Linked DNA regions of Homo sapiens. The protein of the gene in region 1 interacts with the protein of each later gene in a pairwise test. Each region holds a gene or a part of one and is shown in the gene's direction. Other genes may lie near its edges. The genes, in order: MLLT11, LEF1 and TCF7.

Evidence for each region.
Region 2: the proteins of MLLT11 (region 1) and LEF1 interact in a two-hybrid assay, tested with the Homo sapiens proteins (one study listed by IntAct).
Region 3: the proteins of MLLT11 (region 1) and TCF7 interact in a two-hybrid assay, tested with the Homo sapiens proteins (one study listed by IntAct).

What each region holds. Positions count from the first base shown.
Region 1 is NC_000001.11:151,061,428-151,070,975, forward strand, and holds the end of MLLT11 (protein AF1q), read left to right. Parts: intron 1-5,791; 5' UTR 5,792-5,797; coding exon 5,798-6,070; 3' UTR 6,071-8,117; downstream 8,118-9,548. UniProt on the Homo sapiens protein: Cofactor for the transcription factor TCF7. Involved in regulation of lymphoid development by driving multipotent hematopoietic progenitor cells towards a T cell fate.
Region 2 is NC_000004.12:108,156,865-108,166,764, reverse strand, and holds part of LEF1 (lymphoid enhancer-binding factor 1), read left to right. Parts: exon of another isoform or gene 1-107; intron 108-463; exon of another isoform or gene 464-484; coding exon of another isoform or gene 485-493; intron 494-1,601; coding exon 1,602-1,668; intron 1,669-3,063; coding exon 3,064-3,197; intron 3,198-9,900. UniProt on the Homo sapiens protein: Transcription factor that binds DNA in a sequence-specific manner. Participates in the Wnt signaling pathway. Activates transcription of target genes in the presence of CTNNB1 and EP300.
Region 3 is NC_000005.10:134,109,181-134,119,663, forward strand, and holds the start of TCF7 (transcription factor 7), read left to right. Parts: upstream 1-5,500; 5' UTR 5,501-5,726; coding exon 5,727-5,975; intron 5,976-6,140; coding exon 6,141-6,207; intron 6,208-6,432; exon of another isoform or gene 6,433-6,728; coding exon 6,729-6,853; coding exon of another isoform or gene 6,854-6,906; intron 6,907-10,483. UniProt on the Homo sapiens protein: Transcriptional activator involved in T-cell lymphocyte differentiation. Necessary for the survival of CD4(+) CD8(+) immature thymocytes. Isoforms lacking the N-terminal CTNNB1 binding domain cannot fulfill this role.

The sequences.
Region 1 (9,548 bases):
CTAATCTATACATTTGCTAATCATGTATCTCTAAGAACAGAGTGATAATTAGATATTGCCTTTGCCTAAAATACCCGGATAATTTAAAGTGAAGGATAGTGGGAAGCATTTATTGAACATATATTGTGGTACAAGGCACTGTCAAAACCCTTTAAGTAAATGATACCATTTAAGATAATGAAAGATGTAAAGATAGATGAAGTAGGGCTGGAGAGCATTTGTGGAGGGGAAGGGGAAGCTAGCCAAAAAAGGATCTTTTGCGAAATTTGGAGTATTTGATAATTAAATCCATACTATATTAAATCAAAAATGTCATTACTACTTACATTAGTGAATAGCATTTTAACTTCAATTTTCTGTGTAGTATTACTTTATGTTCTTGACTTGATTTTAATGCCACGTATGTTTGCATGCATGTCTTTCTTGAATGTATTTGGTACCCTGTGTACATGTCTCTGGGTCAATGACATAGAGATTTTAGGCCTTTTGAGTTAATATTTCATAAAATTTGCTTTAGCTTTTTAAATTGCAAGATAGCTCTACCAAACACTCAGGGACTGTTTGAGCAGTTTTTTATACATACTCTGGTTGTAAGAAAAGGAGTCAGTTTGTCGAAGAGCTTTTTTTTTTTTCTCAGATTCTAGCTTGCTCTACTGCCCTTTGCTTTTCCCCATTCAGATCACAATTACAGGAACAATCACCTAAACCACGGAAAATCTATTCTTCAGCAACTAAAAATTCTTTTAAGTTTTGGGAATACTGGTATAGGGTTATATAAAGCTGTTGGCAACTATCCATGTACAACACAAAAAGGGATCAGATTGGGAATTATGAGATCTGGATTCTATACAAACTGGCTGGAAGTCTTCCCAAGTCATTAATTTCTAAGATGTCTTCTAGTTTTAAAATTCTATGATTTTTTCCCCCCATGATTCTATTTTTTTTTTTTTTTTAAGATGGAGTCTCGCTCTGTTGCCCAGGCTGGAGTGCAGTGGTGCAATCTTGGCTCACTGCAACCTCCACCTCCCCAGTTCAAGCGATTCTCCTGCCTCAGCCTCCCGAGTAGCTGGGATTATAGGCGCCTGCCACCACACCTGGCTAATTTTTGTATTTTTAGTAAAGACGGGGTTTCACTATCTTGGCCAGGCTGGTCTCGAATTCCTGACCTTGTGATCCACCTGCCTCGGCCTCCCAAAGTGCTGAGATTACAGGCGTGTGCCACCGCGCCTGGCCCCATGATTCTATTTTTTAAAGAGCCTATAATGTGGCCTGCATTATACTAAGCTCATTCTGGAGAAGACTTGTCAGGTAGGATAGAGAAAAGAACCCAGCTAGCTGTGAAAATAACTGGTAACAGTAAGAATCCCTGTAGCCACAAGTCCATAACAGTATTGACTCCTAGGTATGCTTCTTAGAATCTCTATAGTCCCAGATTTAAGCAGTGGGTGGTTGGTTAATGGATACAACCATTTTTTGTAGCTCTCTTTCTGCACACGTCTCTGCAAAGTACTATGGAGATTATCAGAGTTGAGTATCATAGGATGATGACCTCACCTTTCCAACATGCTCCCCGACCCTGCTGCAATCCCGGCATCACCCTCCTTCTAAGCAGCTTCTCTGCTGAGTAATGCTCAGTTCCCAGGGTTTATTTTGGAACTTAAACTAAGAAAAAGAACAACTCAGAATTCACTTTCAACATTAAAAACATCCTAGCCTACCCACTCACCATTCCTGAAGCCCCCACACTCTCACACATCACTGTGTTCTAGATTAACACTTTCTTTTTCTGCCTTAGTACAGTCATTTCACATTATACTGGAGCATTTTGGAACCTATTTAAGGCCATTATTTAGGAGTCTCTGGCCTGGTGAGACCCAATAGGGTGTGTTGGAGAAAGGCCTTTTGAAACTTGGGGTTCTGTTTTTGGAGGTGATAGAATGTTCTTTCTGCTCCTTTGGGAACATTTCAACTAATGCTTCTTTTTTTAATTTTTATTTATTTATTATTATTATTATTGAGACGGAGTCTTGCTCTTTCGCCCAGGCTGGAGTGCAGTGGCGCTATCTCAGCTCACCGCAAGCTCCGCCTCCCAGGTTCGCGCCATTCTCCTGCCTCAGCCTCCCAAGTAGCTGGGACTACAGGCGCCCACCACCGCGCCCGGCTTAATATTTGTACTTTTAGTAGAGACGGGGTTTCACCGTGTTAGCCAGGATGGTCTCGATCTCCTGACCTCGTGATCCACCCGCCTCGGCCTCCCAAAGTGCTGGGATTACAGGCGTAAGCCACCACGCCCGACCACAACTAATGCTTCTTGACCCTTGGCTAGTAAGTAGCAGGGTGGAGGCTGTAGGCAGCTCTAATAGTCCTAAAATATCAGGCAGGGCTTGGGTAGAATGAGTAGAGAAAGTGATAGATCCATTAACGCATGGAAGAGTATCTGATTCTGTTAAAATACCTTCTTCCAATCTGAACTTTACTTTAAATCCAAATGGATTTCCAATCCATTTGCTCTCATTATCATCAGTATACTCGAGCACTGGGATCAGAGAAAAGAGATCCCTGTTACAGCATAGGAAAGTTATTTATTTATTTATTTATTATTACTTTTTTTGAGATGGAGTTTCGCTCTTGTTGCCCAGGCTGGAGTGCAATGGCGAGATCTCGGCTCACTGCAACCTCCACCTCCCAGGTTCAAGCAATTTTCCTGCCTCAGCCTCCCAAATAACTGGGATTACAGGCATGCGCCACCTCGCCTGGCTAATTTTGTATTTTTAATAGAGACAGGATTTCACCATGTTGGTTGGGCTGGTCTTGAACTCCTCACCTCCTGATCTGCCTGCCTCGGCCTCCCAAAGTGCTGGGATTATAGGCGTAAGCCACTGCACCTGGCTAGGAAAGTTCTTTTAGCACCTAGGTTTTGTTCTGAAGGAGAGGTAGGCTAGAGAGAAATGGATTGTTAAGGCTTACCTGTGGGCTAATATAAGGGAATGGCAAGGTATTAATTAAATAGTGAGGGAAAGTTAATCAGCAGCCTTGAATGGCTTTGTGTACAAAGCCCACCACTTGTGTACAGAGAAAGTAGATTGGTCTTTACCCTTGGGGAAACTCCTAGGTATGGGGACAGATTCTGGAAAAGAATGATTATTTGCAATTCAGTGGAACTGGTGAGGGAATGCTAATAGGAAAATCCAAGCTCTGACTGAGGCACGCATGGTGAGATGCCAGAGAGCTTCTGCTCCCCTCTACCACCACCTTGTCCTCCCCCTTTCCCCATGGTGGCAGCATGACACAGCAAGGCCCTGTTGAGTAGGCCTTGGATGCCCACAAAGGGTCTGGACAAAGGATGTTTGGGCGTGTCTGTGTGGCTCCGAGAGAGTGTATCTTTCTAATCTACATATTTGCTAATCATGTATCTCTAAGAACAGAGTGATAATTAGATATTGCCTTTGCCTAAAATACCTGGATAATTTAAAATGAAGGATAATGGGAAGCATTTATTGAATATATATTGTGGTACAAGGCACTGTCAACCCTTTAAGTAAATGATACCGTTTAAGATAATGATAGATGTAAAGATAGATGAAGTAGGGGTGGAGAGCATTTGTGGAGGGGAAGGGGAAGCTAGCCAAAAAAGGGGTCTTTTGCAAAATTTGGAGTATTTGATAATTAAATCCATACTATATTAAATCAAAAATTTCATTACTATTTACATTAGTGAATAGCACTTTAACTTCAATTTTCTGTGTAGTCTTATTTTATGTTCTTGACTTGATTTTAATGCCACATATGCTTGCATGCATGTGTTTCTTGAATGTATTTGGTACCCTGTGTACATGTCTCTGGGTCAATGACATAGAGGTTTTAGGCCTTCTGAGTTAATATTTCATAACATTTGCTTTAGCTTTTTAAATTGCAAGATAGCTCTGCCAAACCCTCAGGGACTATTTGAGCAGTTTTTTATTCATACTCTGGTTTTAAGACAAGGGGTCAATTTGTCAAAGAGCTTTTTGTTTTTCTCAGATTCTAGCTTGCTCTCTACTGCCCTTTGCTTTTCCCCATTCAGAAGGCAATAAGGCCATCCCTATACATAAAATACATTAACAGTGATCTGTAATCCCAAACTGATGGAGTTAGGTAAAACTCTACAGGGTGTTGGGGGAGATGCTGGAGGAAATAGAGTAGATGAAGCTGAGTAAAAGTTTAAGGAAGTCATCTGCAAGAGGTGAGTTTATAGTAGGATTTAGAAGGCAAGAAGGAAAATAGAAAGCAGAAAAGTCACGGAAGGTCTTTTCACACATACCATGAGCTATTAAACCAAAGTCAGGAGGAAGTCAAGTATTTTTAAGTATAATAGGAGTTTGGGCTAGGGGAACGGGGGTTCCTCTATAGACTTGGAGTTTTTTGTTTGTTTTGTTTTGTCTTTTTGTTTTTTGAGACAGGGTCTCACTCTATTCCCCAGGCTGGAGTGCAGCGGCACAATCTCAGCCCACTGGAACCTCTGCTTCCTAGGCTCAAGTGATTCTCCCACTCAGCCTCCCAAGTAGCTGGGACTACAGGCGTGCACCACCAGGCCCAGCTAATTTTTTGTATTTTTTGTAGACGGAGTTTTGCCATGTTGCCCAGGCAGGTCTGGAACTCCTAGTCTCAAGTCATCCGCCTGCCTTAGCCTCCCAAAGTGCTGGGAATACAGGTGTGAGCCACTGAGCTCTTGAATGGAGTCCTGAAATGTGGAAAGTCTTTTTTTTAAGACAGAATCTTGCTCTGTTGCCCAGGTTGGAAGGCTCACTGCAACCTCACCCTGCTGGATTCCAGCAATTCTCGTGCCTCAGCCTCCCTAGTAGCTGGGACCACAGGCACAAACCACCATGCCTGGCTAACATTTTGTATTTTTAGTAGAGGCAGGGTTTCCCCATGTTGGACAGGCTGGTCTCAAACTCCTGGCCTCAAGTGATCCACCCACTCTGCCTCCCAAACTTCTGAGATCACAGGCATGAGCCACCACACCTGGCTGAAATGCGGAAAGTATTTTAAGGTGGAGAATGGAGAGAGTTAAGCAAGACAGGAATGAGCATAACTGTAACAGAGGATATACCACTGCTGGGAAGAATGGGCTAGATTTTGGAAGGCCTTGAAAATCAGACCCAAGATCAATTTGATGCAATAGATGGTAAATAAGTCATTCCAAGATGGGAAGTTTAGAAAATAGTAGAAATTCGGCCGGGCGCGGTGGCTCACACCTGTAATCCCAGCACTTTGGGAGGCCGAAGCAGGCAGATCACGAGGTCAGGAGATCGAGACCATCCTGGCTAACATGGTGAAACCCCGTCTCTACTAAAAAATACAAAACATTGGCCGGGCGTGGTGGTGGGCACCTGTAGTCCCAGATACTCGGGAGGCTGAGGCAGGAGAATGGTGTGAGCCCAGGAGGTGGAGCTTGCAGTGAGCCAAGATCGTGCCACTGCACTCCAGCCTGGGCGACAGAGCAAGACTCCGTCTCATTGAGAGAAAAAAAAAAAAAAAGTAGAAATTCATAATAAAGGGTTTCTGAAGCTTGTCCAAGGGAACTTGGATTCTCTCCAGAGGCAATTGGGGATGGTGAGTTTCTTTTTTTTCCTCCCCAAATTCCTTTTTACTGGTGGGATTGGAGGATATACAATTTTCTTTCTTTAATAGAAAAAAAAAAAAAAAAGAAATTCCTTTTTACCAGTATGTGGAGTATCTAAGCAAGGAAAGGCCATGGGCCACAAAGAAGTTGCTGTAGCATGAAGACTGACAAGTGGTTTCTTTCTAGGAAGCTATGAGGGACCCTGTGAGTAGCCAGTACAGTTCCTTTCTTTTCTGGAGGATGCCCATCCCAGAACTGGATCTGTCGGAGCTGGAAGGCCTGGGTCTGTCAGATACAGCCACCTACAAGGTCAAAGACAGCAGCGTTGGCAAAATGATCGGGCAAGCAACTGCAGCAGACCAGGAGAAAAACCCTGAAGGTGATGGCCTCCTTGAGTACAGCACCTTCAACTTCTGGAGAGCTCCCATTGCCAGCATCCACTCCTTCGAACTGGACTTGCTCTAAGGCCAAGACTTCTCTCTCCCATCACCTTGCCCTCATTGTCTTCCCTCTCAAGCCCCTTCCTTTCCACTCCTTTCCCATTTTAATCTTGTTCTCTCCCTACTGTGTTGGTGGTGCTGATGAATCTGCCAGAGTTGAGTTCTATGTATTTATTTATCTATCTGTCTACTCCATTTCTCTCAAAAGCCCTCAAGTCACAAAGTAAATGGTTCAAGCAATGGAGTACTGGGTCACAGGGATTCCTCCTTTCCCCCCCAAATATTAACTCCAGAAACTAGGCCTGACTGGGGACACCTGAGAGTAGTATAGTAGTGCAAAATGGAAGACTGATTTTTGACTCTATTATAATCAGCTTCAGAGATTCCTTAAACCTTCCTAATTTCCTGCTCCAGGGCAGTAAACACAAATATTTCTTCAAGGGGTGATGAAAACCTCGGAAGTTTTAATTTGAGGTTATCTGCTACGAAACAGTATTTCTAAAAGGCTAAAGTGATAAGTCTCTTGCTTTTTTTTGATCCTGCTCTTATATTCTTTTTTTTCCTCAGAGAAATCAGGAGGGTAGTTAGAGGTATAAAACAGGAGGAAATATTATGGAAAATGAAAATAGGGAAAATAATTGAATCATTTTAGAAGTAGCTAATTTCTTTTCTCAAAAGAGTGTCCCTTCTTCACACCTACTCACTTTACAACTTTGCTCCTAACTGTGGGTTGAAAACTCTAGCTAAAGAAAGTTATCAAATCTTAACATGCATTCCTACTATTATGATAGTTTTTAAGGTTTCAATTCAATCTTCTGAACGGCATAAGTCCTATTTTAGCCTTACCTCCTGCATTTGCAATACGTAATACTGATCAGTGGGCACAGTTCTTCAGCTACATTGAGACCCTGAAATGAACAATTATATTCTGACTCGACATCTTGTCCCCAATCCTTCCAAAAATATTGATGGTGATTTGTGCTACCATTTACTCGTTTATTTAATAAAGACATTCAATCCCAGGACTGGAGTCTAATTTTCTCTCTTCACAAGAAAAGCCACAGAAATCTGAGAAATTAGCCTTGCTTTCACACTTAGCTTATACATCTTTTTTTTCTTTTTTATTTTTGAGACAGGGTCCCACTCTGTCACCCAGGCTGGAGTGCAGTGGCGGGGATCACCGCTCACTGCAACCTCCACCCACCAGGGTCAAGGGATCCTCCCACCTCAGGCTCCCAGGTAGCTGGGATTACAGGCGCCTGCCACCAGGCCTGGTTAATTTTTGTATTTTTCATAGAGACGGGGTTTCACCATGTTGGCCAGGCTGGTCTCTAACTCCTGACCTCAGGTGATCTGCCCGCCTTAGCCTCTCAAAGTGCTGAGATTACAGGCGTGAGCCACTGAGCCCGGCCTCATTTTATCTTTCTATAATAATATTCAACTTAGAGGAAGAATGATTTGAGTAGCATTTAGACATTAGATGGTGAACTTCGCATTGAACAGATAATGAAAGGGCAAAATCAACTTAAAATTAGAAAAGTAGTTAGGGAGACAGGTACAACCACTCTTCTGCTTGCCCACTGACTACCAACATTATATTTCAGGTAATAATTCTCCTAGGTGCCTAAGAAGATAAACGAATTCACTCAAATATGTTATCTGCTTAACTTCTGGTTTTTGTGTGCCTGCTATAGGAAAGCACTGAGCCAAACAGAATGTAAACGGGAATGAGACAAGACTCCAACTCTCAAAAGAGAAACTGTAAATACCAATATGGATAGGACAGAATTGGGCAGTGTACTATAAATAAGGATGACACTATACCCTAAATAAGGATGATCTAGAGAAGTCCCCAGGTGGGAGAAAAAAAGACAAATCCTCCCTCTAGGCCATGAAAAGCCCACATCTAAAGACGGTCCCAGTCTAACGAAGAATGGGGCCAGGAAGGATAAGTAGTGCGTCCTTTTCTATTTTTACTGAGTTTTGAAGGGCCCCTTCAGAGTCCTTCAGCCATGGCAATTGGTGGGTGGAGACAGGGATCAACTGTTTGGTAAATAAAGTGACTAAATGGATTTGCAAACTCATGCTCCATCCTCTTGCAGGCCTCCAAAAAGAAATGACTCAGGCCGGGCGCGGTGGCTCACGCCTGTAATCCCAGCACTTCGGGAGGCCGAGGCGGGCCAATCACTTGAGGTCAGGAGTTCGAGACCAGCCTGGCCAACATGGTAAAATAAAACCCCATCTCTACTAAAAATACAAAAATTAGCCCAGCGTGGTGGCGGACGCCTGTAATCCCAGCTGCTGGGGAGGCTGAGGCAGGACAATCACTTGAACCCGGGAGGCAGAGGTTGCAGCGAACCGAGGTCACGCCACTGCACTTCAGCCTGGGCGACGGACGAAGCGAGACTCCGTCTCAAAAAAAAAAGGCCGCGCGCGGTGGGTCACGCCTGTAATCCCAGCACTTTGGGAGGCCGAGGCGGGTGGATCACGATGTCAGGAGATCGAGACCATCCTAGCTAACACGGTGAAACCCCGTCTCCACTAAAAATACAAAAAAATCTCCGGGCGTGGTGGCGGGCGCCTGCAGTCCCAGCTACTCCGGAGGCTGAGGCAGGAGAATGGCGTGAGCCCGGGAGACGGAGCATGCAGCGAGCCGAGATCGAGCCACTGCACTCCAGCCTGGGCGACAGAGCGAGACTCCGTCTCAAAAAAAAAAAAGAAAGAAAGAAAAGAAATGACTCAGTTATTTGTTTCACTGTTCTCACTGACAGCTTGGCTCTGGGGTCCTTACATTCGGCCTGTAACTGGAAAAATGTGTCCATCAGGCACCAGAACCCAATGCACAAAGCCAGGAACGTCCCAAACAGCTGCAGCCGAGGTTGGGATAAGGAAACGAGGCTTTCCTGTCAAACTAAACCTGGCCGCCCCGGACCCCGAAGAAGCAGCCAAGAGTTAAGACGCAATCTGCATGACTGACGCACGCTCCGAGTCTCCCTCAGCAGTTCGCCAGGTTCTTGGCGCCAACACCAGACCTAGGATCCGTCCCCTGCTGGAACTATTCAGACGCGCAAGATACGTAACCAGCAGTCCTCCGCCCCGTTAAATAGTCCTGCCTAGCATGCCTCGGTGACGCACTTTTCCACCTCAGAAGTGCCTCAGCAGAAAGGCGATGAACCTCGGGGGTGCATCATCTTTCTGTTAGAATGGGAGCATGAGTTTTCTGATCATTTTCCCTTCACAGATTCCTCCGCCAGAAATCTTACTCGCGGCGCCTTCATTTCCGGGTCCGCCATTTTGTTGCCTCTGTTTCTCCACGAGGGGGGGTTAAAGGCCCCCAAAACATGCACACATGAAAAGGGCAAAAAGTAACCGTCCTTGACAGGGAGTCTTAACTAGAGAAGGAAACGGGACTAAACTGGCGGGCTCCGTGGAAGCGTGGCCGGCAGCGTCCCGGACGAGGAGGTGAGGAGGAAAGAAGAGATGTGTGGACTCCGGGGGGCGTC
Region 2 (9,900 bases), on another chromosome or scaffold:
AAATCTACGCAGAAGAAAGGCGGAGAAGCAGCGGAAGCCGGGCACTAGTCCTGCAGGGTGGAAGGCGCTTTATCGGGTCTTCTGGCCCGCTGCGGGCGATAGAGCTGGTAACCTGAGTAGAGTAAATAGAGACACGTGGGTGCTGGCTAGAGAAAGCGCGGAGCAGGGCCGCGCTGGAGGGCTGTTTGAAGCCTAGTCCAGAGCTGGTCTAGGGGGCGGATGGACCCTGATACCCGACACTCCACTGGTCACCCTTGTTCCACAACTGGGAAACCCTCTGGAGGAAATCCGGTAGAAAAGTCCTGACACCCGAATGATTTAACCAACGCCTTTTCCCTCCAAAGAAACTTGGAGGATATACCTTTTTTTCCTTAAATGGCATCTTTCTACCCCCAAAAAGAAAGTGTGTGGTTTTGAGGGCGGGGACATTTTGGGTTTTAAACAGCGCGTTTAAGAACACCTCAGATCTGCCTTCTCTATCCCAATGGCAGAGGTGAGTACGAATTTTGAAAGGCTGGGGGCCTGCGTTCAGAGAACAGAATGGTGTTCTTTACCCGTTGAATCCAGTTTGAGCGGGCTGGGGGCGGGGGTAGGGTGCACCTAACCCCGCGTAAAAGATTTGTGACTACTGTGTGCTGGGAAAAGGAGGTCAAAGGGAGGACACACGTCCAGAGAACCGAATAACATCCAAAACACAGGCTTTTTGCCAAACTCTCCTATTTGTAGAGCAGCCTCTCTTTCTACCCATTTTGCTAGTCCTGCCTTAGTCCATAAATAATTTTGCCACCCACTTCATATTCTCCACAATTTTCTGGTCCGGGTGAAGGACACTGCGTTCGAATCCGAGAGCACTCGGGTGTTAAGTGGGCATGAGGAGGCCTGAGGGTGAAGGAGTAATACCACTGATTTGCACGTGTTTGAGGCTGTCTGGGTGGATGGTGATTACCAAAACTGATATCAACTGGGCTACCTTTTAGATGTCTATAACCTGACTCTCTAATTTTCCTCCCTTTAACCACAGAATCGTTCTACTTTTGTAAGCCTGCACTCAGCCAGCCATAGTAGGTTATAAGCTCGAGTGGAGCTTCTGCTGTAACTGCGCTCAGGGCAGTTGCCTTAAGACCGCATCTGAGTGGTTGGCTTGTTTATGTTTAAATGCCATTTTCAGTTGCAAAATGATATTTCAGCCTTCTTTTAATCAGATCTGATTGAAGTGAACAGTGGTTGAAGAGGCTATCGAAACCATCAACCCCATTAACTCCTACTCCTGTAATATTAGGCATCCAAGGAGCCTTGATATGGTTTAATAAACAGCAGTCAGAACAGCATGTGGATCATTCCCAAATTTAACTATATTTTTATTGGTTTTGTTATTATTTATACGTTTTTGGTCCCGGGTGGATAATAATCACTCAAAAATACATGTTGACAAGAAAAGGATTATGCAGTACTAAACACTAGCGTATGTCTCTCAGAGTATAAAACAGAGTTGCCCCTAAACCTCTTCCTTTGAATTACCAGCGCACACACATTTGTACCATTATTGTCACAAACTCTAAGGTGATTTTCTTTCTTTTGGGTGTGGGGATTCATGATGTTAGGTGGCCAGACAAGCACAAACCTCTCAGGAGCCCTACCACGACAAGGCCAGAGAACACCCCGATGACGGTAAGACACCCATTCTACTTCTTCTGACTTTAGCAGATAAGGGGTGCAATTTGTATAAATAGGTGTGTTTTGTTACTTTTGAGTTCAAGAAACTGGGACTAGGTCAGACTATGCCCACTATTTTAATGGTAAAGAAAACGCAGGAAACTTATGGCTTACCTCTAATATATATTACATAATTTAAAAACTGTTTTTGAATGAGTTAGGGACCCTTGGATTTCAGGTGGGTTCCAGATTCTTTGGGAAGAGGGAATGTCTACAATGAGTTTTTCTCTTCCTCATCTTACCTTAAATCCTAATTAGCTTAGATCTTTAGTATTTTTAATATATTATTAAGAAGAACGACAGTATATATCGATTTATTTTCCAACCAGAATAGTTTTGAGTGGATTTTCACTTGCAAAATTGCTGTTTCTTGTTCCTTATTACAGTGAAAAGGCCGGCAGTAAATGAGCAGAGCAGAATCTAACTTGTAAAAATATAAAACTTATAATTAGGAATGTGCATATCAGAAATGATACCCTTTCTCCCTATTTCTGATTCTTGCTAAAAACTTTAAAATTACATACATATGTATTTAGACTTAAGGAGAATTCTTTGTGACTTTAAAAGAATCAAGTAACCTTAGGGATTTCTTGTCAGCCTATCTGTTTTCCATTAATTACTTAACAATTGGCCTAACTGAAATGAAGTGTTTTTACATACAATATGTCAACCAGGAGCAGGGAAGAGAATTATATATTAGGCTTCTTCCTCAGCTACAAGATAGTTACACAGATTAACAAGAAGAAATACACATATCGAACAGAAATTTTTTGGCAAAATGATCTAAGTGTAGCACATAAAATTAAGCCTCCCAGAGTTAATCCTTTATAAATTTAGATAGTTGCCTATATACTAGATAACAACTCTTTCAGTAGAATCTAGAAATTTTTCTAGAAATCTGCAAGCACAGGTAGAATCTTTGAGTTTGTCTACAAGGCAAAACATAATTTCAAGTGTATAAATCTCTGTGTTTGTGTGTAGCTAGATGGCCTAATATATTTATATTACATTTTTAAAGTTGTGTGTGTTCTGTATATTTTAGTCCAGTTTGTTAGTATTAGAACAAATTAAGTTAGATGGATAACACTTATTTTTGTAAAAACATCAGTCAGTAGTGGAAGAACTGTTTGAACTACATGTTTTTAAAACATCTGGTTTGCTGCTAAGCTATTTAAGAGAATAAATACTGTCAATCTAAAATAGAGCATAATAATCCAGTTACAGTATTTTGTAAACAAATCTTTTATGTAGGGTCTGATTTATCTTAGAACTATTAGATTTTCAGATGAAAAATACAGTAATATAAAAGGGAAGTCAGTGCATCATTGATTGTTCTTTGGATCTTCCCAGGAAAGCATCCAGATGGAGGCCTCTACAACAAGGGACCCTCCTACTCGAGTTATTCCGGGTACATAATGATGCCAAATATGAATAACGACCCATACATGTCAAATGGATCTCTTTCTCCACCCATCCCGAGAACAGTAAGTAACATGCTGATGTTGCAAATTATGTTCAGAAGTGCAAATTGATTTGTATTTTGGCAGAATGTTTATTTTTCCAAACTCATTGGTAATGCTTTCATTATATATAACTAGTCGTTGCTAAATAAGAGCTGTTATGAGGAATGGCCACCTTAAAACAGTGCTACCTTTGATGTCTTGCCTTTGAAATTTTAGCTTTTGGCTTATTGATTAAAATAAATATGTAACAGATCATAAGTTATAAAATCAAGTGAAGTTACATCAACAAATCCCTGATTTTATGAGTATTGTGCATTCTATGCTGATGAGAGGAAAAAATTGATTTACTTTTTCAGCTAAGTAAGGACTGTATAGCTTTTAATGCCCACAAGCTTTCTAGAATCAGAGCTACTTTAGCTCATTTGGAGCTGAATGTTTGTTATGTTACTTTGGCTTTTCAAATGGTGTCTTGTTTTATTGTATCGGCCAATGTTTCCTTAGGATCGGTTTGGCGGGGATGAGTTATTTTTGCTTTATTGTCAATTGTTGAGAAAGCATCACTCAAAGATAACCCTAATGAAAGTTGTTCCTTTTTTTTTTAATCTTGTGGTTTAGTTAACTTTTAAAATTCTAAAAATGCAGTGGTATTATAACTGCATTATGCAAATGCATAACATTATAAAGAATTTCAGGTTTATTTGATGATATTTCTCTTAGGAAGTGGAAACCTCATTTAAGTGAGAAAATACCTAAATGGTAACTTGTGTAGTATGTAGATGTAAAATGTGCTGGTGATGGAGTTCTCTCTTAGAATTAGCCCACCAGCGTTGGTGACGGACTTTTTACTGACCCATCAATATATTTACCTTCTCTCCAGCCCCACTCTCCCTTTATCACCTAACCCCCAATGAAAAACACATGTCTATGGGTCTCGGGGATTAGGGTTCCAGTCTCACTGACAGCCCTGGAGGTCAAATCTCAGATTGTAAAATGGAACCTATAGTGTTTGACTTACTTGCCCAGTGTTTCTACCAACTGAAAAAAATCAGTCACAAACATCTGGGAAGAGTAACGTTGTTAATACCTTAGTGAACAAAATCTGGGAGTGAGAAGATTCACTAGCAGAGAATAGTGGCTCAAAATCAACAGTTATCAACAAGAGTATTTGTGGTTATCATTACACATAATCTTCAGTTGTTGAAATGATACTTATATCAAATATGATCACTTTGAGCACTGCAATTTAGATGTTATTGTAATTATTTTCCAATAAATTGCTAAAGGATATTTGATCTCTCAGCTAAGGAATAAGCTTTTTCTAATTTTTATATAGTAGTTAAAGTGGAGATCTTGGGGTTCTAATCTTGAGGGAGATCTTGTGATGGTTGCTGTAAGAAATAGGTATTTCATATTTTATTTTAAGGCTTTTCAAGTATTTAATGATAAAGATGTCTGTGTGATGAGGATGAATCTCCTACTTAAAAAGTAATTTAAAAAAGCAAAAATAGTTTAATATTTAGAGGCCCCTCAAATAAATGCTTGAGTTTTAAAAGTTGTAGGAGACTTTAAATTTTTGAACAAAACATACAAATATATAGATATCTCTTTAATATTTGGGCAGGTTTTTTTGCTGTTTTTGGAGGGGGTGGAGAAGGGAAGGAGAATATGTTTTAGATAAGGAATATTTGAAGATTCCTGTTAAATCATTTTCAGAATAACAAATAATCTTTCCAAATCAAAGTAGTGTTGGTGACAATAGAAAATAGCCACAAAACAGCCTTACGTTTTTCAGCTGTGAGTATACAGCATTTGTGGAATTTATTTCTTAAAAAGATCAGCTACTTCTCCTTTCAAAATGGTAATTTTAAAAAATCAATATAATGAAAATTTATTGGTATTTATAAGCAATCCCTAAGAATATTGAAAATTAAGCTGATCTTCCTCTTTATGCCAGCATTCTGCCTTGTGTTTCCACAGTCTTTTCTCCCAATCTACCAGTATACTAGTCATTTTGAAATTTTGATAGAAAATATCTTTTGATAGAAGGTATTTATTGTTAGTGTATGTATTAAAATTTTGAGGTCAGTGAATCAAACAGTCATTCATTGTTTAGGAAAGATTTGTGGCCAGAATAAATGTTGGTCTGGGTAAAGTGTAGGAAAGAGGTGTGGTCAGGAAACAGTTACCTTACCCTGTTATCTGTTGCTTTGCTTTATTCTGTTAAATATTAGGATGTATTTATTTTAGGCATGTTTTCTTGAGATATTCTGCAGTTTGCACAATTCCAGAAGCTTTTCAGCTGTAACCACAAGACTATGTAAATTTTTTTTTTAGGGTCCAACCGAAGTGAGTTACAATCTTTGGTTTTTAATACCTAACAGCTGTTTTTAATGTGTCGGAGATCAAAAACACTAACCGGAAGACAGCCTCTCTTCTTCACCCCTAACCACACTTCTGCCTTCTTGCTCTTTAACTCTGTCCTTAGCAGGGCTGAGTGTTTGTGTCACTAACATCCACAGTGATAGATTTTCATCTAGGGTGTCAGGAGCATGGTGACCATTTGTGTTTGGGCTTAGGATGGGAGCATCCCCTTGGCATCCTGCTTCTTGAATTTCCATTACAAACAATTGCTTGTTTACTGCATCTGCTTCCCAAAAGTGTTAGGACTGGAAAAACACCTGGGGTGGGGGAGGGACCTGACCACTCCTTCCCTAAACAGTCTTCTGTTTGTATCTAACTGCAGACAATCCAGAGGATACCAGCTATGGCCAACTGGCATGCAGAGAAATGTTTCTGCTGGAATCTAATTATAAAAAGTGCATATGCTTTTGCTTATTTTTTAGACAAATGCTACTGTGTGTATCCTGGAACAGATTTTACCTATGACCAATATACAGTATTACCTGTTCAGGAGCACCACTTTCACCTACTCAGCTTTTTTTCTTCTCAAGGGGAATTTTAATTGGCAAATTACATCCTTCTAGAACTGGAATCCTTAGGGGTGTGAATGTGTCTATACCAGAAATCTTATGAATGGGTCTCTCACAGAATTTTAAATAAGAATTCTTAGTTCAGATAAATTGGGTCTAAGAAGAAAGCACCTATCATGACATATTTGGTGTCAGCGTGAGTTCTTAGGGCATAGTAAACTTTGGCTTGAGTTGGTCTTCTTCACAGAGAGTGAAGAGAAGATGCAGAAGCCTGTTAAATATTTTAGAGCCAGGACCCTGGAGAGTTTATTAAAAGCATACTCCCAAACCTTTCGTTCTCTGAACTTTATTTATGAAAATCCCTGTAGGCCAATGGTAAAGTATTAAAAGAAAAAAATAGTTCTTTACATCCCTAGTTTGGCTCTGGCAGTTGTGTGCCTGAACACCGTGTGAATGGTGAGCTTGGCCAGCTTTAATGTAGTGAAAGTTCCCACTGGCCTAATGCACTGTGGTTATTCATCTTAGGCGTCAATCTTCCATTTGTCCCGCATGCAACCCAAATGTTTAACACCTTAGAAAAGAAACATCTCATTTCTCTTCAGATGCTTGGGGAGGGAAAAGCAACACAGTGCAGGAAGCTGCAGCAAACGTTGCAGCTCAGTCACATCAAACCACAATAACACCTGGTCAGTGTAGCGCTGCAAACTTCATTGTTTTTGGTTCTTTGTGATCTTTCTAAGAGTCAATTTTTAGGTGGGAAAGGAAAGATATGGGTGTTCTCATTTCAGCTATCTTTTAAAATGTTTATTTTTTTAAAGTAGAAATTGCTATGAAAATGTTCCATGAGTTCTTTTCTAATTACCTTGTATAACTTAGTTCTGTTGTGACTTTTACCTTAAGGGAATCAACACTTTGGTTTCTATTAAACAGAATTATACCTATTATAACTTTGTCTTACCTACCCTGCATATTTGTACTTGCTTATAAACAGCTAAAATCTGATTTTGTCATTGTTCACATCTGGAATTAAGGAACTAAGTTGGACTTGTCTAATCAGTAAGCTTCTGAATGTACCACTGTACGTGACATTGTTGGATACCTTTGAAAATAATCACATAAATAATATTCAAGGATAGATGGAGACTAAGGCTTATATCTCATGCAAGATTTTTAAGGTAGAGTATCTTTTCACTTTATTGCAAGAAGCTATTGAATTTGACTTAACCTATAAATAATTTTCACTTTTCTATTTTAAGTTGTGCACTTTTTGAAGCTAAACACATTGAGTTTTCCCCTTCAAGTGGAGAATAAGTTTTAGAAAGTGTATTATTCTAACTCAAATGTATATATAGATGTCAGGAGAATGTGTGGGAAAATTCCTCAGAGCCCCCAAAGTTTCCTGTTTGATCCCTCCTTCATGGCATTGCTACAATTTGGGACAGGATCATAGTCAGAATAATTGGAAGCGCTTGCCATTCCCCCATCAAATACCTTATGGCCAGTTTGCTTATTTAAGTGTGCCAGGAAGCCATACTACATGTAACCCTTGCAGAGCTAATATTGCATTTACATGCCTGGTTCTTACTCAGATAGTTTTTTTGAAATGACCCTAGTAGTTTCTTCTTCATTGATAAAGACATGAGAACAACCCAAAAGATAGTCTTAAAAAAAAAAGACCACACACTAAAAAAAAGACCATTGAGCCAATCCGCAAAAATCTTGCTTTTGAAGTATTTTTTCCACTCCCATACAGGTCTTAGATTTGCTCTCATCAACCTCATTATTTTGATCGAGTCTTCCCTGTGGTCCGAGACCCTTATGTGATTTAACAGAGCAGAGGTAGGGTCTCACAAATGGGACTCTCTGGACTTGAATTTGTAGACTCACAAGCACTTGCTATAATATCAATTTTGTAGCGGATGAGTTTTTTTTTTTTAATGTTCTTTAGACAGAACCATTTGGGTTTATGTGATTGAATTTTTTTTTGAGCAATCAAAACACTTCATTTTTGACTCCTTTTGTTCCTCATTTATGTATCATAGACATGACTGGAATTTTATAAAGCTGATTTCCTTTTGATTTTGGTAAAAGACTTGGAATTTAAAGAGAAAACATGCCAGCACTGTCTGTAGCAAGCAGAAAAACATATATGTTTTATTCCCAGGTAAAAGTAGAGCTCAGCATTATGTAGGTGCTGCTGTCCTGGGACTAAAGGTTGCGCGCTCTCTCTCTCTCTCTCTTTTTTTAAGGGAATGTTCATTTAAAACTTGTCCTCTTTGAAGCTGTTGCTTAAGTGTTTGTGCTGAGCTGAGCCAATCTGTAGGAAGCTAATACTGTAGTAATCAAGACACTTAGTACTCTTCTGTGCTATCCTTACATGTCCTTACTTATTTAGAAAAGGCAGCCATTGGATTTTATTCAGATAATTTAAAAATTATACTTTAGGTTCATGATTACTTTTTAAATATTATGATCTTGAATTACCTGCCTAGGAACTGTGGACTCTGCTATAAACTCTTTTAGGGATATAAATCATCCAGTATCTCAGATAGAGAAGATGAAAGCCTTAAAATATCCTAGAGAACAACAACAAAGACTGGGGGTGGAGGTGGGGGGAGTTGGGAGTTAATCTGTACCAAAGTGAAGAGCGGGGAGTTGAGCAGAGGACTGGACAGGGAGCAGGAGGCATTGCTAACTCAGAAATTCTGATAATCTAGCTGGGACTATTTGCAGACTGTTAGCAGAGGCTGTGTAGAGGATTATAAAGTCTCTGTAAAAGAGTGCATTTGTATAATACCCACTGTAGCTAAACCTGTAAACCTGCTGCAATTATCCACTTGTTATCTCTAGATCACTTACAAAGCTCACTGAGCGATGGTACTCACATGCCTTCAATCTGTATAGGGAAAATTGCAAGGGCAGTGCAGAGCAAGCAAGAGTTTTGTTGCCAACCCCATTTTTCCATTTGTAGGAGAAATAGGACTAGCAGAGAAGGTTGCATCACAGAGTGTCTAGAAATACAGTTTATTTTTGCAGCTAGCTAGGGACAAGTAGAATCTTTAAAAAGCTGGATTTGTTGACCGTTGTGTCTACCTATGCTCACACATAACCCTATGTGGAACTTGATGACAGTTTTGCAGATGAAATTTTGATCTTCATCATAGTAATTTATTGTCATTGTTATGTTCACCTGTAAAAAGTTGCCTATTGCTCGAGGCAGGTGGATCACCTGAGGTCAGGAGTTTGAGACCAGCCTGACCAACATGGTGAAACCCCATCTCTACTAAAAAATACAAAAATTAGCTGGGCTTGGTGGCAGGTGCCAAGCTACTCAGGAGGCTGAGGCAGGAGAATCTCTTGAACCCAGGAGTCTGAGGTTGCAGTGAGCCCAGATCGCACCATTGCATCCAGCCTGGGCGAAAGAGCTATATGTGTGTTTGTGTGTGTGTGTGTGTGTGTGTGTGTGTGTGTGTGTGTGTATATATATATAGAGAGAGAGAGAGAGAGAGAATGAAGAGGTAGATATAAGTTAGGGTCTCTAAAAAGGAGAGTGGTTCTAGGGTAGCTTAATTTTCTTTTATTATTGTTGTCAGCTTCTGAATGAAACAGTAACCAAAGCAAAATTTTAAAATTTGACCTACTAAGATATATTTCTTTTATTTGTATAAGTTTATGGAGTACAAGTGTAATTTTGTTACATACATAGATTGCATAGTGGTGAAGTCAGGGCTTTTATAGTATCCATCATCCAGATAACATATCCATTAAGAAATTTCTCATCATCACCCCCCTCC
Region 3 (10,483 bases), on another chromosome or scaffold:
GGTTGCCAGTTCTGTGCCAGGCCCTAGGGATAAGCAACAAAGCCCTGTATAGCCCTGTCTTAAAAAGCGATATTGAATAGTTCTTTCTCAATAAGACATTCCTCTCTCAGTGTGTCTGAGGCTGTCTCCCCAGGCCACATAGGATTTAGTGCAGGCGTATTCCTCTGTGAAGCTGCAGGTGACCCCCACATGAACACCAGGCCTTGGTGTGCTCCACCTTCTGCTGCATTTGTGACGCCGCTTGTCTCTCACCTCTGGTCTCAAGGCCATAAGCTCTTCATGGCATCCTTAGAACTTAGAGACACCTGGCCAGGTGCGGTGGCTCACGCTTGTAATCCCAGCACTTTGGGAGGCCAAGGTGGTTGAATCAGCTGAGGTCAGGAGTTCGAGACCAGCATGGCCAACATGGTGAAACCCCATCTCTACTAAAAATACAAAAATTAGCCGAGCGTGGTGGCAGGTGCCTGTAATCCCAGCTACTGGGTAGGCTGAGGTAGGAGAATTGCTTGAACCTGGGAGGCAGAGGTTGCAGTGAGCCGAGATCGTGCCACTGCCCTCCAGCCTAGGCAATAAAAGCAAGGCTCCATCTCAAAAAAAAAAAAAAAAAAAAAAGAACTTAGAGGCATCTGCAGCTTCCAGGTGAATTTGGGCCCAAAGAAGGCAGAGGACTGACTTGACTTCACTCGGCAAGCCAGTGTTGGGTCAGGGACTAGGACACAGGCTGGCACTCCCGACCCCTTGGACAACTGGTACACCCGGCAGCCTAGGACCTGGCACACAGTGGCCACTCCACGTTTGCCTTCGCTGTCGCCACCTTGGTGTCTCTGACTCTAGACTCCTTCCTGGGGAAATTCAAGCCTAATGTTTCCTTCTGGTGAGGGAACCCCAAACCCATTCATCAGGAACAATGGCTGGCACAATGTGGGAAAAATAACCCATGGGAATAGTCCTAACAAGCCCTGTGAAGCTCTGGGGCAGCTCTTCTCATAATTTGCCCATCACCTCTCAAGCCAATTTGGCCAAGTTTCCTTAGGATTTCATCAGGAAATATGAACTGCCAATTTTGTTATTAAGTCTTTATTTTAATAACAATTCTTGGTTATTGTATGAAGTCCGAGGGATGGAGCAGGAGGGGAGAACCCACAGAAGAGTCCTTCCTTCCTTATGAAGAAAGAACTGACCCCAAAGCCCCCTTGCTTCATTTTAAGGGCAGCTGCCTGGTACCTGATGCAGAGTAGCAGCATCCCAGCAATTGTGTGTGCTTGCCTTTCTGTAGGTCACAACCACCTACATGCACACACATGGACACACACGCCCCAACAAACAGTGAAACTACACAGAGTTTCCAGAAAGCAAACCGTGTTTCTAGTAACAAACCACAGTCTACCTCTAGGACCTGTAACCGGGTTTTGCCCTGAGAGGATGCTCCATGGGAAGTGCTCCTGCCGAGAGCCAGCAGCCCAGCCTCCCGGCGGCTTTGGGCAAGCCCCAACAGGATGCCAGGCGGGCTGGTGAGCAGGAAGAGACGCCGCTCACAACCTCTCCTTGCTGTAATTTACTAAATCCATCTGGGGCTCCTTTGAGACGTTTTCTGGAAATGCCACATTTCAAGGGTCTCCCTGTCAGAAAAGGTCAGAGTTCACGTGGGCCTTTCATGTTAAAGGAGCTTGAAAGAAAAGGAAAGGAAATGTATATTTTCAGCTCTAGCCATGATTAAGTGGGCTCAGGCCATGAGAACATTCAGATGATTTACATGACGTTACATGAAGAGCCAATTAGCCTAACAACTTCCGAAAAATATCTCGTTCAAGAGCACCCATTAGACACTTGGAATGCACCAGGCTGCTGTTCTAAGCTCTTCACTAGGGTACAGTGGTTCATCTCGACTGCACTCCAACAGAGCAGGGCAGGCCTGCGTATGACATCCATTTAACCTATGGGGAGACTGAGGCTCAGAGAGGGTCAGCAATCTGCCTGGGGTCCCACAGCTAGTAAGTGGCACGGCAGAGATGGAAACTTAAGACTGCCCAAATCTAAAGCTGGAGCTCATCTGCTCCAACAACCCTCAAGCCTTGGGAGTCCTGACTTAGTCCTGTTTCCAGCATCTGACTAGTGCAAGCTCATTTGCGTGAAGATGAAGCCTTATTAAATCACCAGCCCTGGCCTGGTCTGGATGAATCCAGAAGACTCTGGGGCCTCCTTGCAGCTGGTCCTGGTCCTGAAACTCCCCGGTCACCTCCAGGGGGGCAACCACAGCAGATTGCACTCACTACCCTGTGGAAGAACCCCAGTGTCTATCATCTGTGTATGTGATCTGAGCCAATTCCCAGAACAGGTGGCCTCGGGTGGGCTCAGCAGAGAGATGGTACACACTGAGATCTGTCTGGTTCAAGGGAGAGATTCTAGGCCCTCTCTGCCAGCAAAGGTCTTGGGCCCCCTATACAGACCACCAAGATGATTCCCTAATCCTGTTGATGGCCCCCTTCATGCAACATGAGCCACCCAGAAAGTCAGGGCTCCATATTAGTGACAGCTTATTTGTCAGCATTTGTCTGCCAAGACCACAAGGCAAATAAGGACTCCCTCTGGAATTTTATAATGGAACACTAGAGTGTGATAGTTAGGATGTGGGCTCAGGAGTCAGACTGCCTGGGTTTCAAATTCTGACACCTTCATTTTCAAGCTGTGAGAACTTAGGTGACTTCATCTCTCTGAGCTTCAGTTTCCTCATTAGTCAAATGGGGATACGAGTCCCTATGTCACAGGGTTGGTGTGATGATTAAATGAGATAATGTGTGTGAAGCTCTTGACAGGATGCCTGGCACATAGTAATCACTCAGTATATGAGGTTGGTCGTTGTGTAGACGATGGTGAAGGAATCAGTGCTGACTAGACCAGGGACTCCTGTGGGGCCGCACCAACTTCTGGGGAACAAATCAGAGCTCTTGTTCCTTTCCAGCTTTCCAAACCCTCCTAAGCCATCCAGGCCCACATGAAATCTACCTCCTTCAGGAAGCCACCCTGACTACTCTAGTCCACATTGATCTCACCATATCTGAGCTCTTTCTGTCCATTACCTGTATAGACTACTCTAGCACCTAAATCGGCTCTAATAACTCTTCAGCTTCTCAAAGCAGCCAATGGCTCCTGGAAGGCAGACACCTCTAGCCCTTCCCTCTCCACAGCCCAAGCCAGGGCTAGGTACACAGTAGATGATCCCTTAGCAAGCCTTCAGACTGATTTCAGTGTGGCTGTGGATGCCTGTGACTCAGCCCTTCTCTCCCTCACGCCTCCTCACAGTCCCACTCTCCCTACTCACCCACCCTCTCCTCTGGTTCCAGCCAGCAGGGTGGGGAGTTGGAGCTATGACCCCATAGGACAGTTGTTCCCAGACTATAAAATGTCCAAAGAAACTTGAGGGTGGGGGAGTTAACAGATGGGGAAAAAAATGTTCCTTATGTTCTTTCACCAAATAAAGACATGAAAAAAAACACTTGTCCCACCACCATTTTAGTAAAGAAAGGATGTTTTCACACCAATAAAGCAGTAAGGGCATAATCCTTGATTAAAGGCTAATACGAAGCTGGAAAGTTTTAACCTTATTGAGAAAACAAAACAAAACAAAAAGAACCTCACTGTTGTTGTGACTTTTCTCCTTTCTCCAAGGACTGGAGAACACTTCAGCCTCCACTGATCTGTGTCGGTGGAACTCATGGGTCTGGGGACAGCTATTCTGGAGGACGTTCCTGCTGAACCAGGGTTCCCTACAAACACATGAGGACCCCTAAAGCCATTGGGTTGGGCAGATCCGGATTCCCTTTCAGCTGTCCCAGAGGAGGCTCACCCTATGCCAGACCCTACCTATAACCTCAGGAGTTGAGGTGGCGGAGGCTCTGAACTCCCGTCCCTGTACCTCTCCCCTCCGGGCAGGGCCGAGCCCCCCCTTCCCCGCCAATCCGGAGCAGATGAGGCGAGACTAAGCGGCAAGCCCACCCTGGGAAGAGGCTGGGGAGACCTAATGGGCAGGGTCCCCCTCATCTCCATCACCAAGCTGAGCACTCGTGCCCATGCCACCCCCCAGCCCCAGCCTGGGGAAAGGAGGAAAAGTGGGCACCCTAGCCCGGAGGTGGCGGGGGAGGGGGGTGTGGGGGCTGGTGTCCGAGACACCCGGCTGGGCGGGCACAGATAGGATCTGAACACAGGGAAGCATGGCCTAGCTCTTTGATCCACAGCCAGCCACGCTGGGCCTGGACCCGGAGGGAGGCACGGCTGTCTTCCGGCCCGGCTTTGCACCGCTGCCAGGGGTCCTGTGGGGCCCTCAGAGGGAGAGGCGTCCAATACCCGGCCCTCCCCCAAATACCCTCTATCCCAACTGCTCTCAGAAGAGGCGTGAGCGTCTACAGTGAACCCAGCACAGAAACCTGCTAGGGGAGCTGCTGTTGACTGCATCGCGATCCAAAGGACCGGCGTCTTTTGTAGATGCAGGGGCTGAGCCAGGCCAAGCGCGCCGTGGAGGCCCGCGTGGACGCAGACCCGGGTGCCATACAGATGCGCTGGAATCCAGGCACTTTCCCGCGCTCCGCAAATCTAGATGTTTCAGCCTGGATCGAGCGAGGGTTAGAGGGTTAGTCAGGCCAGGGTCAACTTCAGAGTCATGGGCTCCCTAAATGCGACTTCTAGGGTTGAGTTGCTGTGGACGAGCGACCCATGTCGGAATCCCGCGCCCACGTGGCTGCCCAAAGTTCCGAGTCTCCGGGCTGCAGGTTCTAGTCACGGAACCGAGTTGGGAGAGTCATAGGGGCTGGGACTTGGAGGATCGGCTGAGGTCCGGTGCTCTTGGCTGTGTTCGCGGCTCGGAGCCGTCGCCTGACTGAGGGGCCCGTCACAGATGTGTGATGTATAAGCTCTGCACGCAACAGGAGCTCAATAAATGTGCGAAGGGGGGTATACTTATGTTCGCACTGTATGCAGGCGGCCTAGAAGGAAGTCCCTGATTGGCACAGGGATGGAGGATGGGGCAAGAGCCGCAACAGCGCCGCGGAGTTCCAACGCTGCCGGTTCCCTGGGGTACGAGCACAGCCTCAAGCAGCCTCAAGCCCTAGGAAGCCCCCAGTTCAAAGCACAGGGCGCATTGGAGCCTGGGCACGATACAGTTCACACCACGGCTGCGATGGTAAGCCACGCCCAAGTCCCAAGGGCCTAGGGGACCCCCGCCCTCCACAGCCGGAGGAGAAACCTGGGCGCAGAAAGCAGGGGGAATATCTGGTTGTAGGTGAGTAAGCGGGGTCAGGAGTTCCCGTTAGAGTCTCTGCGTTTCGGGAGAAGGGTGATCATTCCCAGGCTTGTCCGACGTCTCTCTCAGGGTGCGCTCCGGAAGAGCGAGCCCTTTAAGGCTATGCCGAGTGGGCGCGTCCCGGCCTCTCCCGGGAGAGGAGAGGCGGGGCGGACCTGTGTCCCGCCCCCGGCCCGGCCCGCCCCCAGTGCCCGCCCCGCCCCCGGCACTCGGCCGGCGGCGCCTTTGATGTTCCGACCCGCCAGCTCGCGGAGCCGCTCTGCCCCGCGCCCTAGCCCGCGCCTGCAGCCCGCCCAGGCGGAGTCAGCCCGCGCTCCGCCCGCCGCGATCCGAGCTCGGAGGTTCGGACTCCGGGCTCGCCGCCCCCCGGGCCGGCTCCGCGCCCCGCACTCCCGGCGCCCAGCGCCCCGCGCCCCGGCGGGCGGAGCGCACCATGCCGCAGCTGGACTCCGGCGGGGGCGGCGCGGGCGGCGGCGACGACCTCGGCGCGCCGGACGAGCTGCTGGCCTTCCAGGATGAAGGCGAGGAGCAGGACGACAAGAGCCGCGACAGCGCCGCCGGTCCCGAGCGCGACCTGGCCGAGCTCAAGTCGTCGCTCGTGAACGAGTCCGAGGGCGCGGCCGGCGGCGCAGGGATCCCGGGGGTCCCGGGGGCCGGCGCCGGGGCCCGCGGCGAGGCCGAGGTGAGCCCCCGCCGGCGCCGGCTCCTCCCCCGCGGTCGCCGCGCCGCGCCGCCCCAGTTGCGCGCGGCCCTCGGGGTCTCCAGCGCGCAGAGCGTCCCTGCCCCGGCGTCGGCCCCGACCCCCGCGGTCCCACCGCCCCTCACTCCCCTCCGGTTCTCCCTCCAGGCTCTCGGGCGGGAACACGCTGCGCAGAGACTCTTCCCGGACAAACTTCCAGAGCCCCTGGAGGACGGTGAGTTTCTGCCCGGCCCGGCTTCCCTTCGTCGCGCTCAGGCCCTGGCCTCGGTGGGACGGGGACGCCAAGGACCGCGGGGAGCCGGGTGCCTCCCCCACCGCAGCTCAGGAGGCGGCAGAACCCAGGGGTGGAGAGTGGGGGGCGGGCTTCCCGGGCGCCGCCGGGTCGAGTCACTTCCGGTGCCCTGACCTTTATAGGAGTAAACAGACCCCCGCCATCCCCGCCTCCCCTCCTGCCCAGGTGACTGACTAATCCGCCGCCTTCAGGAGACAGAATTGGCCAAGGTTTCTTGGTTGGAGGGCGGGGGGTGGGAGGTCAAGTAGGGGCCACCTCGGGGAGGCCTGCCCTCCAGGTCCTTCCCCTAAAACTTGGCACTGCCGATACTCCCAGCCCGTTCCTTCCCAAGTCAGGAACTTGCAGGGGACCCCTTGGCAATTCTTTTTCTCTCAAGAGCAGACAGCCTTCAGTCCCAGCCGCTGCCAGGGCTGGTGTGTCTGACCCAGCTGTGGTTTTTCCAGGCCTGAAGGCCCCGGAGTGCACCAGCGGCATGTACAAAGAGACCGTCTACTCCGCCTTCAATCTGCTCATGCATTACCCACCCCCCTCGGGAGCAGGGCAGCACCCCCAGCCGCAGCCCCCGCTGGTAAGTGGACCCCGCAGCCAGTGCCGCCCTGTGCTTGCAGCCTCCTTGACCAGGTAGGTGAGGCACCGGCAAGAGACTTCTGCCTGGAACAAAATAGACGAGACTCCTGTGCTGGTCTTTTCTCCCATACACACCCGGTGGGATCTGAACCAAAAGGAGAACTTTGCTGAAGGAAGGAGGGGCCGCCCTGGGGCACCCCCCTGCCCTCTGCCTCTTGGCTTTTGTCTTCCCAGCTTGCTCATAAGCAGGTGCAGGCTCTGTCCTGGTGCTGGGTGATGCCAGGGTGGGGTCTTCTTAGAGAACTTTTGAGCCGAGACCACCCTTGCTCCTCGCTGCTCTGATCTGAGCTCAGAGCTTTGCAATTAACTTTCTAACTAGCCCAGGAAACCCTGAGCCTCCTTGGCGCTTGGAGGAATGGGCAGGAAAGCTGATCTGTTCAGGTCCCCTGGTTGTGCAGGAGAAACGTGCTGTGTTCGGTCGGCTGTGTCCTGACGGGCGTGAGTGTACCGTTGCCAAAGAAGGACCCTGAACACCATGTGTGGAAAGTGGGTTCTTAGGAAACTGGCTTGGTCTCAGACATACCAGGAAGGGTTGGCAAAGGTGCTACAAATCAGTGATGTTGAGAAGGGACCAGTTTAATTAATTCGTGAATTAAATATTTTTAAGTCCCAGTGCTTTGAAAAGATTTCATGATCTTTACAAACCATGCCCATTGGTACAGATGACCTAAAGTGTGAAGAGCCTATTCTGAGTGTTTTGGAGCAGTACAGCTGCGCTTTTAAAGAAATTCCTATTCGTGTTTCACACTCTCCTCAGTTGGTCCAAGTTGGGGTGAAGGTACGTGGAAGGTTTGGAGGACTGTGGTAAGTGAGTGTTGGGTGTGAATGTAAGCCCAGTGCAGGTGGGGCTGGCAGGCTGGAGGCTCGCATGGCTACAGTGGGGTCACCAGAGGGAGGAGAGTTAAGTGCTAGGCTATTTCAGACCAGGAGTGAAGAGGGTGGTTCTGAGAGCTGCTGCATGCCAAGCCAGTGGGAATGAGAAGACATATAGGCTTCTTTCCAGAAGCCTAGGCTGGAAAGCCTATTCTATGGCTAGCTCTAGAAATGAGCTCCTTGCCCTTTGGGCCCTTATCTGTAAAATGAGTATGTTTTTCGAGTAGTCTCTGTATCCGACTTTCTGCTCTGGGGTGGCTTGGTATATGAGGTGGTTCACTTCCTTCCAAGTCTGTGAGATGGGGGGTGTGCCCCCCAGCATTCCCCCGCTGATGTAGTGACTACATCCAGAGAACTCACCCTGTGTGAGCCCATGCTTAACAAAGATGCGTTTTGGATCCCTACAAGATGTAAATAAACCCTTAGATTTGGGACTAGGTTGACATAACCCACCAGTGCCAAACTTCCAACAGGTGTGCCACTTGCATAGGGGCTGGGGTCACCGTGGAACCATGATTAGACAAAAGGCCTAGGCCCAAGGCTCTACTCCAGCCTCCCGGGGCTCCACAGCAGCACAGGGAAAAGGCTTCCTTTCGGAGGTCATCTCATGGTGTGGGCAAGTGCTGGGAGAGTATCTGGAGCAGGGAGGGCTTCGTTCTGCTGTCAGGGTATGGGTGATGGGACCATTTGGTGTCCTTTGGGCCACATGGGTCAAGAGTAGGCTCTAACAGGACAGTGGAGGAGGCACACCACCACTGGCCTGGGTCATTTATTTTTCACCTTTCAGTCTTTCTCAAGCTACAGCAGATACATTTCTATGTATCGCACCTGCTCCTATAGGTACAAATCCCCTTGCCCTCCTCCCCGCGCAGCCACAGTCTCCACTGTCTGGCTTCTGGCCACACAGGAGGAGGAAAAGGACGGGCTGTGACACTGGCTCTCTGTGCCCTGGCCTCAGCTGCTCTGTGGGGCTGCAGAAAAGGACAGAGGCAGAGGTGTAAGTTGGAGTGACACTCAGTGAGGAAGCTGTATGTGAATGTAGGAGAACCTCTTTTAAGCAAACCTGCCAGTTATAAACACATAGCAAGTCAGAGCATTTGCTTGCATTACCTGAAGACGTGTGGGCATTGAAAATGTGGTTGGGTTTTACCAAGCAAAGTGAATCCACCCCCACATTTTAGAAGCATATTTATTATTGGATTCAAGGTTCATGTGTCTGGAACCAGGAATGATCTTCTTTTCTTGGGTCAGGAGCCCCTTGCAAGGGCCCTGAGGAAAAACTGCCTTTGGAAGATTTTTCCAAAGCTGGTCACTTTCCCAAGCCCATCTTTAAAGGACAGACAGCTTGCTGCTCAGGCCCTGCCACAGGCCTTAGATCCAGGCCCCCTTGCCCTTTGCCCGGCCCTCTCTGAGGGCACCTATGTGGTCAACACTTATGCTGAGAGGCTTGAGGCCAGTCATTGCACCTCCCTCAAGAGCAGGGAAAGCCTATACCAGGGACCTGCTCTGCCCATGTGTGGGTAGGATGCCCATGTGGCTACTGTGTTAGAGACCTCAAAACAGGCCAGCTCGAACCTTGCCCGGAGCAATAGGCTGAATGACCACCCCACAGCCAACTGCCACGGGACACATTTTTTTTTTTCTTCCAAAAAGGTTCCTTCTTTTTGGTAGTTGGCTTCTTTTAAGCTTGTTTGAGGAAGAAAAAATTAGGTCAAAGTTTATTCCATGAACACTGTCAGGCACCTGATTGATGTAGGCTTGCAGGCAGTTACTGGCCTAGACCAGTAACCAGGGTTTTTTTGTTTTGTTTTGTGTTTGTGTTTGTGTTTTTTTAGAGACAAGGTCTCACTCTGTTGCCCAGGCTGGAGTGCAGTGGTGTGATCTTGGCTCACTGCAGCCTCAAACTCCTGGGCTCAAGCCATCCTCCCACCTCAGCCTTCTGAGTAGCTGGGACTACAGGTATGCACTACAATGCCCGGCTAAGTTTGTTTTTGTTTCTGTAGCAATGGGTCTCACTGTGTTGCCTGGACTTTGGTTTGGTTTTCTCTGCTCTGCTCTGAGACCTGAAAGTAGGTGGAGGTGGTGAGTGGGGAGATAGTGAGCTGATCTTAGGCTGTACTTTGGGGGGATTCTGGGATGGGTAAGGCATCATTCCTTAGGCAAACTCAGGCTCAAACTCAGTGTAGTCAGTCTTGTCATATCCAAAATTGATATGAGGCTGCATTGAGCTGTGGCTTCTTCTATGAGCTCTACTTGGAGTCTGTAGCTTAGACAGATGCCGAGCCTTTTGCCATTTTGATGAAATATCCAGAATAGACACATCCATAGAGACAGAAAGAGGATTAGTGCTTGCCAGGGGCTGACGGAAGAGGGGCCCAGGGAGCGACTGCTAATGGGTATGGAGATACTTTCTGGGGTGATGAATAGGTTCTGGAATTAGATCGTGGTGGCAGCTGCACAATCTTATGAATATACTAAAAGCCACTGAATTACATAACCTTTAAAACAGTGTATTTTATGATATGTGAATTACATCTCAAATTAAATAAAAAGGCTGAGGCCTTTGGCTGTTGCAGACTTGGGGCCATGTGTCCCTGTCCCTGATCTCCACAGTTGTCCAGGTGCCTGGGGATGCCCCAAGCCAGGGGGTCAGGCATCAGGTGTCAGGTCCAGCAGAAGGAGCCTCACTGAGGCAGTG